4 linked regions of the Homo sapiens genome follow. The protein of the gene in region 3 purifies or fractionates together with the protein of the main gene of each other region. This does not show direct contact. Each region holds a gene or a part of one and is shown on either strand. Other genes may lie near its edges.

Region 1 (3,500 bases), on a different chromosome or scaffold from region 3:
TATCTTAGTTACGTTGAAAATGGATTGGATTGGATGTAATTAATAAGACTCTGAGGTCCACCTTGCAGTTAGAATACTGCTAATAGTGAAGTATTACCAAAAAAGGTTTACTCTTCATATAAGATGTTTGACAAATTAGTAAAATGAATGACATCCCGAATTTAGAGTGTACCTTTGGTCTTTATCCTACCCACTACATATACAGTAGTAATTTTGCATATATTTAAACAAGCAAAAGAATTTGACCTTTTGTTTATACCAAGTGAAGGATCCAAAAACATTTATTAAGTTAAAAGGCTAAACACAAAAAACAAGCAGAGAAAAATGATTAAACAACTATTAGGAATTAAATACTTTTATATTATTTTAACCTGCTTACCCGAAGCTTTAATGGGGCAACATTCTTCTGAGTTCCACTCCAAAGTTCCTGCACTAAATCACCATAGCATTTAGCCATATGCCCCTTCATACCAATGGGATTTGTCCTAGAAGTTTGAGAGGAAAATTTGTTGCCAAAGATTCTCATAAATCACAATCATGTGGGCGCAAAAATGCCTAGCATCTCACATCAAAATATCTTTTCTTTTTGAAACAAGAGATGTATTCCTTGGCCTATTTCATATTAAATAGGGCAAATAAGATAAAATCTTTCTCCCACAGGGTGAAAAAAGAGGAAATTTAGGTGATATTGGGTTTATATCAAAGTCACAGGTTAAGAGGCCAGTGACTCCAGAAAGATTACCTGTTGAGTTCATAAAGATGTCTCCCTGAGATAAAATACTGTGTCAGTGGCTGTGTGTTACTAACACACTGGATGCTTGAGTTCATGAAGCATGTGTTTCCCAGATTGCTTAGACCTGTGGCTCCCTTTTCTGTGGGAACTGGAACAAACAATATGAGAACCAAAGCTTAGCTGTAGTAATATGCCATGGCACAAACAGTTACTTATATTCAATGAAAAGGTTTTTTATAACTCTCATAATCAGCTAAATGGTGCTAATAATTCTCTAGCAGGTCTCTGAAATGCTAGAGAAGGCTTTTCATGGAGTGTCTGGCAACAGTGATGATCCATGCTCATTTGTAACCCAGAAGCAGCAATTATTCTTTTTAATTGCTATGATTTTTCAAAATAATTCAAACAATTCTTCTTCTAGTATGTCTTTTAAAACATATAAATTATTTAATTGCAGAGTTAGAAAGAAATTTAGAAAATAATTTGATGGTGGGTTTGCCAACATCAAATGCTGCTTCAGGAAAAAAGAAAAAGAAGAAGGCCCTAATTACTTTTGAACTAGAAAACCAAAAGTTGTTAGCACTTTAACAGTTGAGAGAAGAAAAAAAAAGAATACATTTAAAATAATCTCTTTAAAAAATAATACTGGAGACTTACCCTTGTGTCTATCTATTTTACTACTATTTGCTATAAAAGACATCTCCTCAGGCCAACTCATATCTTTGTTGCGAACTGGAAGGACAGATAGGAATGTGTTAATTTCTTATCTATCTAATTTATACCCATTCGATTGCTTTTTTTTTTTAAAGACATCTTATTCCTAAATCAGAAGTTTTAAAATCTAGTTAATTTTAGTACATACATTGCTTAACGACGAGGTTATATTCTGAGAAATGCATCATTAGGTGATTTTGTCTTTGTGTGAACATCACAGAGTGTACCTACACAAACCTAGGCTATGTATGGTATAGGCTGTCGCTCCTTGGCTACAAACCTGTACAGTATGTTACTGCATTGAATACTGTAGGCAAGTGTAACACAATGGTAAGTATTTGTGTATCTAAACATGTTAGAACATAGAAAAGGCACAACTAAAAATACAGTATTATAATCTTATGGGACCACTGCTGTATACAGGTCTTTTGTTGACAAACATCTTTTTGCAGCACATGCCTGTAATTGGCTCTAAAACCATTCCTACTCTTCATATTGAGGACTTTAAAGTCACTTGGTTTGAATAATCTTATCCCTCAATTACCTACTTGAAGTAAAATTATACTCAACCATCTACAGAAGTAATTAAAGTTCAGAAACAATGGAATTTCTTATACTTAAAACATTAGAAATTACAATTCTTTCTTAAATTGTAACAACTGTCAGAGTAATTTATTCCTTTTTTTTTTTTTGAGACAGTCTGGCTTTGTCCCCCCAGGTTGGAGTGCAGTGATGTGATCTTGAGTCACTGCAACCTCCGCCTCCTGGGCTTGACTGATTCTCGTGCCTCAGCTTCCTGAGTAGCTGGGACTACAGGCACGTGCCACCACACCCAGCTAATTTTTGTATTTTTAGCAGAGACAGATTTCACCATGTTGTCCAGGCTGGTCTGGAACTCCTGACCTCAAGTGATCCACCCATCTCAGCCTCCCAAAGTGCTGGGATTACAGGCGTGAGCCACTGCGCCCGGCCTATTCATTTTAATACAAAGGCAGCTAACAATGTTGCCACAAAACTTGATGGGAAAAGATACACTTAAAAAGTTTTTAATGGCATGTGCATGCCAGTGTGTAAATCTATGAATATACAAATAGCTCTGTCAGTGAGTAGCCAATGTTGGTGACTAATGAAAGCCTGTGCTACTAACTATGCAAGAAAGTTGTTCTTTTTACTCAAACTCAAAGCAGCAACTTGAAAATTTTAAGGAACTATAAATGTGTAAACTGAATTCACTTGTTTTTTATCTACCATTCCCATTCTTTGTCAGTCAATGACTAAAAACAGAATATTTTCCCTTTAAAGCAATCTAAATTGTATGGTAGGATTACATAAGAGTTCAAAGGGTTTTCTTTTTCTTTTTTTTCCAAAGGGTTTCTTTATCATAAAAACATAATAATCAAATAATAGTTGTTTTGGAGAAAATTATAAAATGGGTTATTAGTAACTCTTTAAATTCTTCCCCTTGAAAATTTAATATAGATGCATGCTTCCATCTTGTACCTTCAATTACCAGGTGTTGTTCATCCTGGATTTTCAAATATTCCAATTTATGATCCTCATCATCCAGAAGAGTAAGGTAGTTCTGTGTAAGGAGGAGGAAATGTTTTTGTTATTTGGTTAGTAAACTTGAAACAAATACAGAGATAAAAATGAGTAACAATTAAAAAAACAACTTCTTTGTAGTTATATAACATATCACAAATATCTGGCCTACTATAGTTGTTCATAAATATTTATAACTTAGGTGGCAGTATGACAGAAAGACAATGTGTACTTCATAAGCGTTATCTTTCTCTTTTTTAAAATTTCAATAGGTTTTTGGGGAACAGGTGGTGTTTGGTTACATGAATACGTTTTGTTTTTTGTTTTTTTTTTTTTTAAAGATGGAGTCTGGCTCTGTTGCCCAGGCTGGAGTATAGTGGCACTATCTTGGCTCACTGCAACCTCTGCCTCTGGGTTCAAGCAATTCTCCTGCCTCAGCCTTCTGAGTAGCTGGGACTACAGGCTCCCACCGCCATGCCCAGCTAATTTTTGTATTTTTAGTAGAGACAGG
Region 2 (4,171 bases), on a different chromosome or scaffold from region 3:
GGTTTTGCCATGTTGCCCAGGCTGGTCTCAAATTTGTGAGCTCAAGCGATCCACCCACCTCGGCCTCCCAAAGTGCTGGGACTACAGGCGTGAGCCACCGCACCTGGCCTGGTTGTTTTCTAAATGAGCCATTATCTCCCTTCTCCAAAGTTAAGTGAAAGCAATCATATTCATAAGTAGTTTGAAAGGGAATTCGACATAGCCTCTTAGCTATCAAAAGACAGATCTTTATTTAACTCACTTACACAATGATGCTTAAGTATTGAACTGGGAAGTCTCTATCAGTAATAATGAATTTCATTAATTCAATGAATATTTATTGGACAGGTGTGGTGGCTCACACTTATAATCCCAAAACTTTGGGAGGCCAACGTGGGTGGATTGCTTGAGCTTAGGAATTCGAGACCAGCTGAAAAACATGGCGAAACCTTGTCTCTTTAAAAAATACAAAAATTAGCGGGGCATGGTGCTGTGTGCCTATGGTCCCAGCCACGCAGGAGGCTGAGGTGGGAGGACCTGTTGGGCCCAGGAGTTACAGCTTACAGTGAGCAGTGATTGCACCACTGCACCCCCGCCTGGGCAAGAGGGATACCTTGTCTCAAAAAAAAAAAACATAAAAGTAGGGAAACAAGCTCATAGACATTAAGCAACTTGCCCAGAAAGTGGCAAAACCTGGACTTAAACCCAGGTTACTTAAATGGAATGTTAAGTGATACATACCCTGCTGTCTTGGTATCTGCTGTGTGGATTCCACCTTTGATCTTCTCTGGTGTAAAGGTTATTTCTGTTGAGCCAATTTCTGCCCCCTCCAGTTGCCCATCACACAAATCTCGAATCATTTCCAGTCCAGATAAATGTTGAGGCCTTCAGGTCATAATACTGCATCAAAACGTGTGCATTCAGACTGCCTACATCCCCACATTTTATGACAAATTTATAAAACTGCAATGGCAAGAAAACAGCAAGGTCTAACCACAGTAAGTGCCACATCTTCAGTGTCAGCTTCCTTTTGGGTTTTTATGCACCTAGACTACCTGCTAGTATGTATCATTTTAACACTTCCTTGCAGACCAGTTATTTCTGACTATAAATACATACCCTGATATATTGCTGCAAATTAGAAGTGTGCTAAAGAAGAAAACTAATAGTTATTTCAGTGCCACCAGTCTCGCTTGCACTTGACTGAACAATCTATGGTGCCTGTATGGGCTGAACTATGTTCCCCCTAAATTAATATGCTGAGACTGTAACCCTCCGTATCTCAGAATGTGACTATATTTGGAGATAGAGCCTTTAAAGAGATAATTAAGTTAAAATAAGGCCACCATACAATCTTACTGGTGTCCTTATAAAAAAAAAAAAAACTAGAACATACAGAGACGCTAGGGGCAAGGTACACAGAGGAACCACCATGTGAAGAGGCAAAAAGACAGGCCTGGAGCAGATCCTTTTCTCATGGCTCTCAGAGGAAACCAACCTTGTCAGGACCTTGATCTTGGACTTCCAGCCTCCAGAACTGTGAGGAAATAAATTTCTGTTGTTTAAGCTCCACTCTGTGTGTGGCATTTTGTTATGGCAGCCCTAGCAAACTAATACAACACCTACAGCCTAATGAATTGGATTCCCCTGTTGGTGAACTGGAGGGCTGCAAACTATGACAAAGGCAATTAACATTAACATATCAGTAATTGCCTTTTGGTAATTTCAAAACTGTAGACAAAAGACTGAGACCGCTGATTTATTAAAATGTAATAAATACAGAATACATACAAAGCAATCAGTGTGGCTTCAAACCTGGGTCCTCTTCTAGCAGGTGCATGTACCTGAAGCTCAACTAGTGGCATGCCCAGCTACCCAGACAGAAGAAATAAGGTCAAATGTCAAGGTGTTTCCCTCTCCACAACAGATAATTCTGGTCATAACAGCTCTCTGGAGGTATGAATGAAGGCTGGGATAACACATCTCAGGATTCTTTCCTGTTTTATGATTCTAAAACTGACAGCAGAACCAGAATGCACTGGTTATAAAACAGGGTTTCCTCTGGCGTCACAAGCATTTCTGCCCTATCTATCTTGCCAGCTCATACGTGCTGTTCGGATATTTGGAATGCCCGGTGAGGTGAGAAAACATTTTAAAAGCTAGCTCTTCAGCAAATGACACTATTTAGTCAAACAGAGAAAACTCGAGACCATTTCTAAACTCACCCCTCCAGGCTTTCAAGACTTTACAACCCAGGCCACCGCCCAGGCAGAGTGCCCCGCCCTGGATCGCCCATACCTGCGTCTGGGACCTTCTGGGTTCCACCACTCGGACTCCCGATGCCCCAGCCCGGCAGCCCGACCCCCCGATCCCCCAGCTTCACGGCCCAACTCCCCCTCCAGCCAGATTTACCTCAGGCCTGGCGTGCTCCGGCCGGCTCGGATCTTCTGCACCCGCAAGGGGAGGCCTAGGAGACAGCTCAAGGCCGTAGAGACTCTCAGGATCTGGCCGCCCTGCAAAGGTTGGGGTACAGGGAGAAGAGAAGTAAGCACACCGGTGGTGAGAGCTCCCCTCCTTAGTTAGGCTGCAGCCCCGGCCGCTTCGCTCTGTACTCACCCCTTCCATGATGCTGCCATCGACCTCCACCCGCGGCCCCGCCATGGGGGACACCCTGGGGCCCAGCCCGCAGCGACAAAGCCTCCGCCAGAGCGGGAGAAAGAAGAGACGTTGGCTCCCGCCCAGTAGTTCAGAAACCTTGGTTCATGCCTGGGGCGCAGGAGCCTGACGAGAAAGCGGAAGAAGCGGCGCCTCTCGGGACACTGGAGTCAGCAGAAACGAACCCCCGGGTTCGCCCAGTTCCGCAGTCAGTGCGCATGCGCGTAGCTCGGCTTAAAGGAGCCGCGCTGGGAACACTGCGGTCGGGGCGAGGAAGCTGCCGGGGAAGTGAGATGACGGTCGCGGGGGTGCCCAGGAGCCCTGAAAAACTTGTGCCCTGGGCACGGCAAAATCTGCAGGTTGCAGAAAGTCTCAACTGTAAGATAACTCCTCCAGTTATCCCGCAGGCTTGTGCTTTATCTCTGTTTTGTGGGTAAATATGTGTTTATATCTGTTTTCTCGAGGATCCTGGCATACCCCGAGGTGCCGACTTTTAGAGCTGAAGATGCAAGAAAGATTGGGATCCTGCGATGCACCGAACCTGTCTCTCGAAGTGTGTGCGCCCTGGTACATTGATACTCTTGGCCTTTGGTTCCTTGCGGTGTGCGTGTTTGTGTATGCGGAGTGTGTTATCTTTCTTTCTAGGGTGACACACCATTTATTTGAGAGGCGGGAAAGGCAGAATCACTAGTTTAATATTCTGAAAAGCCAAAGTTATGCCATTTTGCTTGAGAGTGAGTGCAAGCTCTTGACTCCCAGGAACAGTGCAGCTAACAATTCACCTCAGGCGAGGGCAGAAGCAATAGCCAGCTTCTTGGTTCTGCCTGTGGCTCAGTTCCTACATAATTGAGTACCAAATAATATGTAAACCTCTAGGGAAGCAAAAAAGAGTAATTCAGCTTCTACCCCCGAAGTTATTGGAGGTATAATGGAGAGACTGAGACGTAATCAATTACAATGTCATCCTCAATAATAATTAACATGTACTGTATTTAGAGTTTATTATGGGGACAATTACAATATATTAATAATATACTGTAACAATAACAGGCAACACTTATTGAGCACTTAGGTGTTGTGCACTGCATGCATTCATAACATGATAAAGTACTTACTGTTTTTACTGTTTTACAGCTTCCTGTGTTAAACAATTTGCTACAAGGTCACACAATTTTAACTAGAAGACTGAGATGTGAACCTGGGTGGTCTGATGTGAACACCACTGTCTGGTAATCCCAACGCTCTGCTGCTTTGCGACAGAGAATGTTTTAGGGAACACACAGACTATGTACTTAACCAAATCTGGAATTTGCCGTAAGATATTAATCAGAGAAGTAATGATACTTGCATTTTAAAATGAAGGCTTTGGCAGTAGGAGAAGGGTGAATAAGAGGCTTAAGAGCCTGAAGGGAGAAATGCCAATGATACAATTATCCAGCAAGAAATAATCAGAAGTTGAAGTAAGGCAATGATGGTAGGGATGGAATATAAAAAAGCTGTACCCCTATCTGACATCTTTATTGGGGGAACCCGCCCC
Region 3 (2,798 bases):
TCTCGTGCCCTCACACCAGGCCCTACCTTTCCTGCTTGTTATCTGGTCCCTCTGCATCTCAGAGTCCCCACAGAAAGTGTCCCGTGTGCAATATATAGGGTTGCCATTGGACCAAGAGAGTTGATGCCAAGAGTGTGCCCATCCGTGAAATGGGCATTGCTCTCTGCAACTGTTCATTTATACTACCTCTCATATTCCCTGGAGGAGTGACCCATCCATCTTTCCTCAGGATAGCAACAAAAAGTCCTTGTCGAAACCACATTTCAAGTCCTTTTACGTATAACCATCCTTCGGCCAGCCCCGGTAGGCAGGTAAGGGCAGGACTCATTTCACCATTTTTTTTAAACTGGCCCAGAGGTTTGAGGTGACTTGTGGAAGGTCACCATATCAGTGAAGGCCACAATATCCATGAATTGTGAATATCTTTAGTATCAGCCTATAGACTGGAAATTGAGCTCCACCCTCCCATCCTCCAGTCAGTTAGGTATTCTCTAGGCCAGTGGTTTTCAAAGCTTTCTTTAATTTGGTGGAAAGACATTTTTTTCTAATCCCAGCTGAACCCCCAAAATACGGGAGAGAAAAGCAAGACTCTGCTTTGGAGTACAGCCTTTCAACCCTTTCCATCCCTAAGGGCACCCAGTGAGGCCCTTCTGCAGAACCTGGGGTCAGTGGGACACAGTGAGGCAGCTCCTGGAGCAGACCATGTGGCCTGAGCCCCTTTGGGTGGCAGGGCGGGCAGGGCCTCTGCTGTCTGGCATGGCTGACAGAGGGGCGTGGCTCACGAGCTGCCCCTTGCTGCCCTAGGGGATGAGTCATTCCAGGTCGGCATCCTCCGGCAATGGCAGCTGACCCTATATGGCTCTGTGTGGAGTGCAGTAGACATCAGGGACAGACAAAGGTGGGTAAAGCCGCATGTGTCAGAGGGAAGGCCAGTCACAGGGGAAGGGCCGCCTAGGGAGCCCATCGCCCTCTGAACCCCAGCTGTGCTTCCCAGTTCCAGCGTCAAGCCGGTAGATGGAGCCCCGGGCTGGGAACTCACAGTCTGGGCCTCTCCTTTTTGCTGTGGGGCTTCCCTGTCTTCACCTGTAAGGCAGGAAAATGGGTGAGGGCAGATGGTATAGGAACCATAGTCAGTGGGGCATCCTCACCTCTTTTCTTCTCCACAGGCTGTTAGAGAGTGCCATGAGTGGAAAATACCTGCACGATGACTTCGCCCTGCCCTGCCCACCGGGGCTGAAAATTCCTGAGGAAGATGGTTACACCATCACCCCCAACACCCTCAAGGTACTAGGGCCAAGACTCAAGCTGCGGGTAGATGGGACTGTCCTGTCTGGGGGATGGAGTTCTTAGTGTGTTTCTCAGGGTGACCTGCGGGGTGAAGGACTGGGAAGACCTGGGTCCCAGCAGTGGTTTCATAGCATTGCTCCTACCCTGCTAGCCTAACTCTTACAGGACAGGCCTTGTCGGGGGAGGGGGCAGAGGGAACAGTTTGGGTGAAAAAGGCAGTCCCTAGAAGGAAAAAGACTTTCTGAGCTCATTGTCCTGGGCTGAGAAAGGCTGTAGGCTTCGGGAAACAGTGCCTCACGTAGGTGCTTGCCTCGGCCCCAGACCCTGGTGCTGGTAGGCTGTTTCACCGTCTTCTGGACTGTTTACTACATGCTGGAAGTATATTTGAGCCAGAGGAATGTGGCTTCCAATCAAGTTTGTAGGAGTGGACCCTGCCACTGGCCCCATCGGAGCCGGAAAGCCAAGGAGGAAGGGACAGAGCTAGAATCAGTGCCACTTTGCAGCAGCAAGGATCCAGACGAAGTGGAAACAGAGAGCAGGGGCCCTCCCACCACCTCTGACCTCCTTGCCCCAGACCTGCTGGAGCAAGGGGACTGGAGCCTGTCCCAGAACAAGAGCGCCCTGGACTGCCCTCATCAGCACCTAGACGTACCGCACGGGAAGGAGGAGCAGATCTGCTGACCTCAGGGCCTGACAGTGTGGGACAGGCTCTTCTTTCCCAAAATTAGGGAGCTCTTGACAGAAAGCAGTTCTGATGCTTACATCTGGAATCTGAGGCATCCTCTGACTCCACTCAAAGAGGGTGAGGGCCTTCTTAAGATACAAATGGTGGAGGATTGCTGCCAGAGAAGTCTGGTCAGAGCCACAGGGTCTGCCTCCAGCCAAACGGGAGCTTTTGGTGAGAAGGTGTTGGACAGGGGATTGGCGCCCCCCTTTGGTTTGGCCTCCATCCTCATCTCTCTTGGGCCAAGCCAGCTGCCTAGGTCCCCCAAGCATGGGGGACCCCTTCCCACATATAAGTTGAGAAGGTGCCTGCCATAGCCAGGAGCGCATCTCAATGGAAACATCACTGGGGTCACTTGGGAAGAGGACTTCGGGGTAGAGGCTGGGAGGAGCCCCTGGACATGCCTGTCCTGAAAGCGGCTGCCTCCATTATCCATTCCCAAGATGCCTGATCAGAAACCAACCATGAATGAACCCCTGGCTCCTTCACCACCCCCACGATTGGTATGATGCTGCCGGCACAGCTGGGATACACACGGCTCCCCCAGGCCTGAGCTGCTTCACTAGGGAATCCTGCGGCAGGACTGCAGAGCAGATGGCAGATGCACATGTTGGAGGAGAGAGCCTTGGGAGCCACTGCCACTCCAGTCCTGCCACCACCCTGTCTTCCTCTGCAAGTGCTCAGGGAAATGGCCTTCCCGCCGGAGGCCAGCTATCTGCCTGACAGGCTGTGACTCTTCTCTCAACCTTGGCCTTCTCCCCTCTTCTGAGCTAGTTGGTTGAATTTT
Region 4 (3,500 bases), on a different chromosome or scaffold from region 3:
ACCACACCCAGCTAGGTTTTGTATTTTTAATAGAGATGGGGTTTCACTATGCTGGCCAGGGTGGTCTCGAACTCCTGACCTCATGATCCACTAGCCTTGGCCTCCCAAAATGCTGGGATTACAGGCGTGAGCCACTGCGCCTGGCCTACCCTCAGAATATTTCTGTGAGGGGTGGGCTAGGATATCCGCTTGTGGACTTTATATTTGTCATTTTTGCCCATAACAGTTTATTCAGCAAATACATTTCCAATGCCCCCGAGTCGTCAAAGAAAATGTGACCCTGCTGTCTGGAGTCATAGGTGGCTGCTGAGCAGTGTACCAGGGCCATCTTGGTGGCCTGGACAGCACATTAGAGAAACAAGAGCTGCTTGCCCCAGGGTAAGTTTCACAGATGAGGAGCGATTTGGGCCGAGTGTCCAAGGCTGTTTTCACTGGAGGGGAGGGAGGAACGTTCCATGTCTGGAAAGCTGCAGGTGCAAGGGTAAGGAGATAGCTCTGAATAATTGGTTTGATGAAAGACTTGCGGGAGTGTGCAGGAGTGATGGTGAATGAGGCTAGCAGTTGTGTCTTTTCTGTCAGATATAAGCTTGTGCGTAGGAGCCTCATCCTGCATTCCTCAGGACAGTCACAGAGCCAGCCCTGGGCCTGGTGTGTGGGGAGCCCAGCCACGTGGCCCACCATGAGAGCTTTTCGTCAGAGCTCCAACTGTCAGAAGTGTCAGATGTGCCAGTAGAAGGATGAGGCCGCCTCCTAAAGGAGAGGGAAGACCTGGAAAGATCAACAGCAGACGCAGTCTCCCAAAGCAAACGTGATTCTGTGGTCAGGCAGGTACGGTGACGGGTTGGTCATTTTGCATGACGAGGTGACTGCCACAATCACCAAGGGTGCCGAGTCCAGTCTCCTGGTCATGCCAGATGCTCTTGTTTTCGTGAAATTGCCAGAACATGACTGAGGCAACCACGATAGGACTGGTTGGTGCAGGCGTTAAGATCTTGGGCCTTTTTGTTCTCTGTAAGCTGGAGCCTTTGCTGGAACTTCCTGTCTTGGAAATCAGAGTTGTGAGAGTAGGTCCCCTGCCAGCACCAGGAAGGTCGGGAGAGCTGGTTTCCTCACTTTGCTCAGGGCTCAAGTACTAGCTAGTTTGTTTCATCTTCCAAAAAGAGCCTCACCTGGACCCCGCTCCTGTAGGTGGTGCCTGCCTGCTGCGCCCTCCCCTTCAGTACTTCGTTTTGTTGACGGGTTTTGCCTCCTCCCTCTGCTCTCCCTTTGTTTGGAGCCTGTGCTGTTTGATTTCCGTGTCTTGTGTGCTGCACCCTTCAGGAGAATTCAGGTGAATTTCTGGTGCTCTCCGGCTGTTCTTTTCAGAGTGGAGGGGAGTAGTACTTGCTGGTCAGTTGCGACTCTGTCTGTGAAACAGCTCTTTGTGTTGCTGAGATGACGCTAGAGGTGTAGCGTCCATGACATGTTTGTCGTCTGATTAAGCTGTGGTGCTGGCACTTAGACGGCAGAGGAAGGTGTGGCCCAGCTGTCCAAGGCCACCAGGAGGACCTTCAGCTTAGTTAGGACCAAGGGAACTGAGTTATCTGAGTGCCTGAAAAAGAACACATCAGGCCGGGCGCGGTGGCTCTCGTCTGTAATCCCAGCACTTTGGGAGGCCGAGGTGGGTGGATCACTTGAGTTCAGGAATTTGAGACCAACCTGGCCAACATGGCGAAACCCCGTCTCTACTAAAAATACAAAGAAATTAGCCAGGGTGGTGGCAGGCGCCTGTAATCCCAGATACTTGGGAGGCTGAGGCACGAGAATTGCTTGAACCTGGGAGGTGGAGGTTGGAGGTTGCAGTGAGCCAAGATTGTGCCACTGCACTCCCTCCTGGGCGACAGTGCAAGACTCTGTCTTGGAAACAAACACATCAATCCGAATGTAAGAGATTAGCAAAGCGTTTATTGGTTACTGGGTGAGTAGTTGGCCTAAGCTAAGACAAAAGAGGAATCTCCAAGTATTTTGCTACCCCTTGGCAGGAAGAGAGGGAATGCAGCTTGCGGGGTGGGGATGGGGGTGTCAGGTTGATAAGAAAACTGTGGGAAAATAAACATTTACTCCTGCCCCCCATGTCAGTAAATACCATGTGACAAAGGTGAGTTCCATGAAAGAGGCTGTTACTGAGGCCTGTGATACTTGCTTGTCTCAAAATGCTGACATATCTTTTTTTTTTTTTTTTTTTTTTTTTTTTTTTTTTGAGACAGATTCTTTCTGTCGCCAGGCTGAAGTGCAGTGGCATGACCTCAGCTCACTGCAACTTCCGCCTCCTGAATTCAGGCAGTTCTCCTGCCTCAGCCTCCTGAGTAGCTGGGACTACAGGTGCATGCCACCATGGCCAGCCAATTTTTGTATTTTTAGTAGAGACGAGGTTTCACCGTGTTGGGCAAGATGGTCTCAATCTTTTGACCTTTTGATCTGCCTGCTTTGGCCTCCCAAAGTGCTGGGATTACAGACATGAGCTACCACGTCGGGCCTGACAAAGAATCTTGATAGCGATTGAAAATGTATCCATTCATACTCAAATGAAGTAAAAAGTGCTTTTGGGTTCAAAGCCAGAGAATGTTCATGGATGGCGTTTTTGGTGCCTCAAGTGTAGCCAGCTAGAACTTTTCTTACCACCGTCCTGCTTAGTCCTACTGAAGACCTGCCTTCTACTAGGAAGCTGCTCTTAGTCCACAAAGTGGCTTCCCTGTAGTTCCACAGCATTTAACAAAATAGATTTCAGGGAGTTTATTTGTGGTGTGGCTGGTTATTTCTGCTAAAACCACTAGGAATTACCATAAAAGCTGTAGCTTGGAGAAACAGTATCTACTTGCGGGAGTATTACTGCCACCTGTGTTTTTTTTGTTTTTGTTTTGGTTTTTGTTTTTTTTTTGTTTTTTTCAAGATGGAGTCTTGCTCTGTTTCCCAGGCTGGAGTGCAGTGGCACGAACTCGGCTCACTGCAATCTCCACCTCCCGGGTTCAAGCAGTTCTCCTGCCTCAGCCTCCCAAGTAGCTGGGGCTACAGGCATGCACTACCGTGCCCGGCTAATTTTTGTATTTTTAGTTGAGGTAGAGTTTCACCATGTTGGCCAGGCTGGTCTTGAACTTCTGACCTTGTGATCTGCCTGCCTCGGCCTCCCAAAGTGCTGGGATTACAGGTGTGCGCCACCGTTCCCAGCCCTGCCATTGGCTTTTTAACCAGGTGAATTCCTGTAGATTGGGTAGATTGAAAGGACATGTAGCTGAATCATTGGTTTTAAAAGGAATGGCTCAGTTACTTCATAGCCATATAATTAAGAAATGTGGCTAGAAGGTAAAAAATTGGCCAGGCCTGGTAGCTCATGCTTGTAATCCCAGCACTTTGGGGGCTGCGGCGGGAGGATCCTGTGAGTTTAGGAGTTTGAGACCAGCCTGGGCAACCTAGAGAGACCCCCATCTCTACCAAAAAACCCTTTTTTTTTTTTTTCCAATTAG

What was found. The genes of interacting proteins can lie anywhere in the genome.
Region 1: the proteins of TAGLN (region 3) and USP32 purify together in Homo sapiens (affinity purification with mass spectrometry, with the first as the bait; one study listed by BioGRID). This does not show direct contact.
Region 2: the proteins of TAGLN (region 3) and RTCA purify together in Homo sapiens (co-immunoprecipitation; one large-scale study listed by IntAct). This does not show direct contact.
Region 4: the proteins of TAGLN (region 3) and TRAP1 purify together in Homo sapiens (co-immunoprecipitation; one large-scale study listed by IntAct). This does not show direct contact.

Annotation. Positions count from the first base shown.
Region 1 is NC_000017.11:60,210,634-60,214,133, forward strand, and holds part of USP32 (ubiquitin carboxyl-terminal hydrolase 32), read right to left. Parts: intron 3,030-3,500; coding exon 2,948-3,029; intron 1,466-2,947; coding exon 1,391-1,465; intron 882-1,390; coding exon 743-881; intron 486-742; coding exon 380-485; intron 1-379. UniProt on the Homo sapiens protein: Deubiquitinase that can remove conjugated ubiquitin from target proteins, such as RAB7A and LAMTOR1.
Region 2 is NC_000001.11:100,264,845-100,269,015, reverse strand, and holds the start of RTCA (RNA 3'-terminal phosphate cyclase), read right to left. Parts: upstream 2,801-4,171; 5' UTR 2,641-2,800; coding exon 2,596-2,640; intron 2,493-2,595; coding exon 2,392-2,492; intron 1,517-2,391; coding exon of another isoform or gene 1,478-1,516; intron 865-1,477; coding exon 721-864; intron 1-720.
Region 3 is NC_000011.10:117,205,167-117,207,964, reverse strand, and holds the end of TAGLN (transgelin), read right to left. Parts: 3' UTR 1,969-2,798; coding exon of another isoform or gene 1,609-1,968; 3' UTR 1,285-1,608; coding exon of another isoform or gene 1,167-1,284; 3' UTR 899-1,166; coding exon of another isoform or gene 805-898; 3' UTR 501-804; downstream 1-500. Other genes in the region: PCSK7 (proprotein convertase subtilisin/kexin type 7 preproprotein), read left to right, coding at 805-898, 1,167-1,284, 1,609-1,968. UniProt on the Homo sapiens protein: Actin cross-linking/gelling protein. Involved in calcium interactions and contractile properties of the cell that may contribute to replicative senescence.
Region 4 is NC_000016.10:3,711,025-3,714,524, reverse strand, and holds part of TRAP1 (heat shock protein 75 kDa, mitochondrial isoform 1 precursor), read left to right. Parts: intron 1-3,500.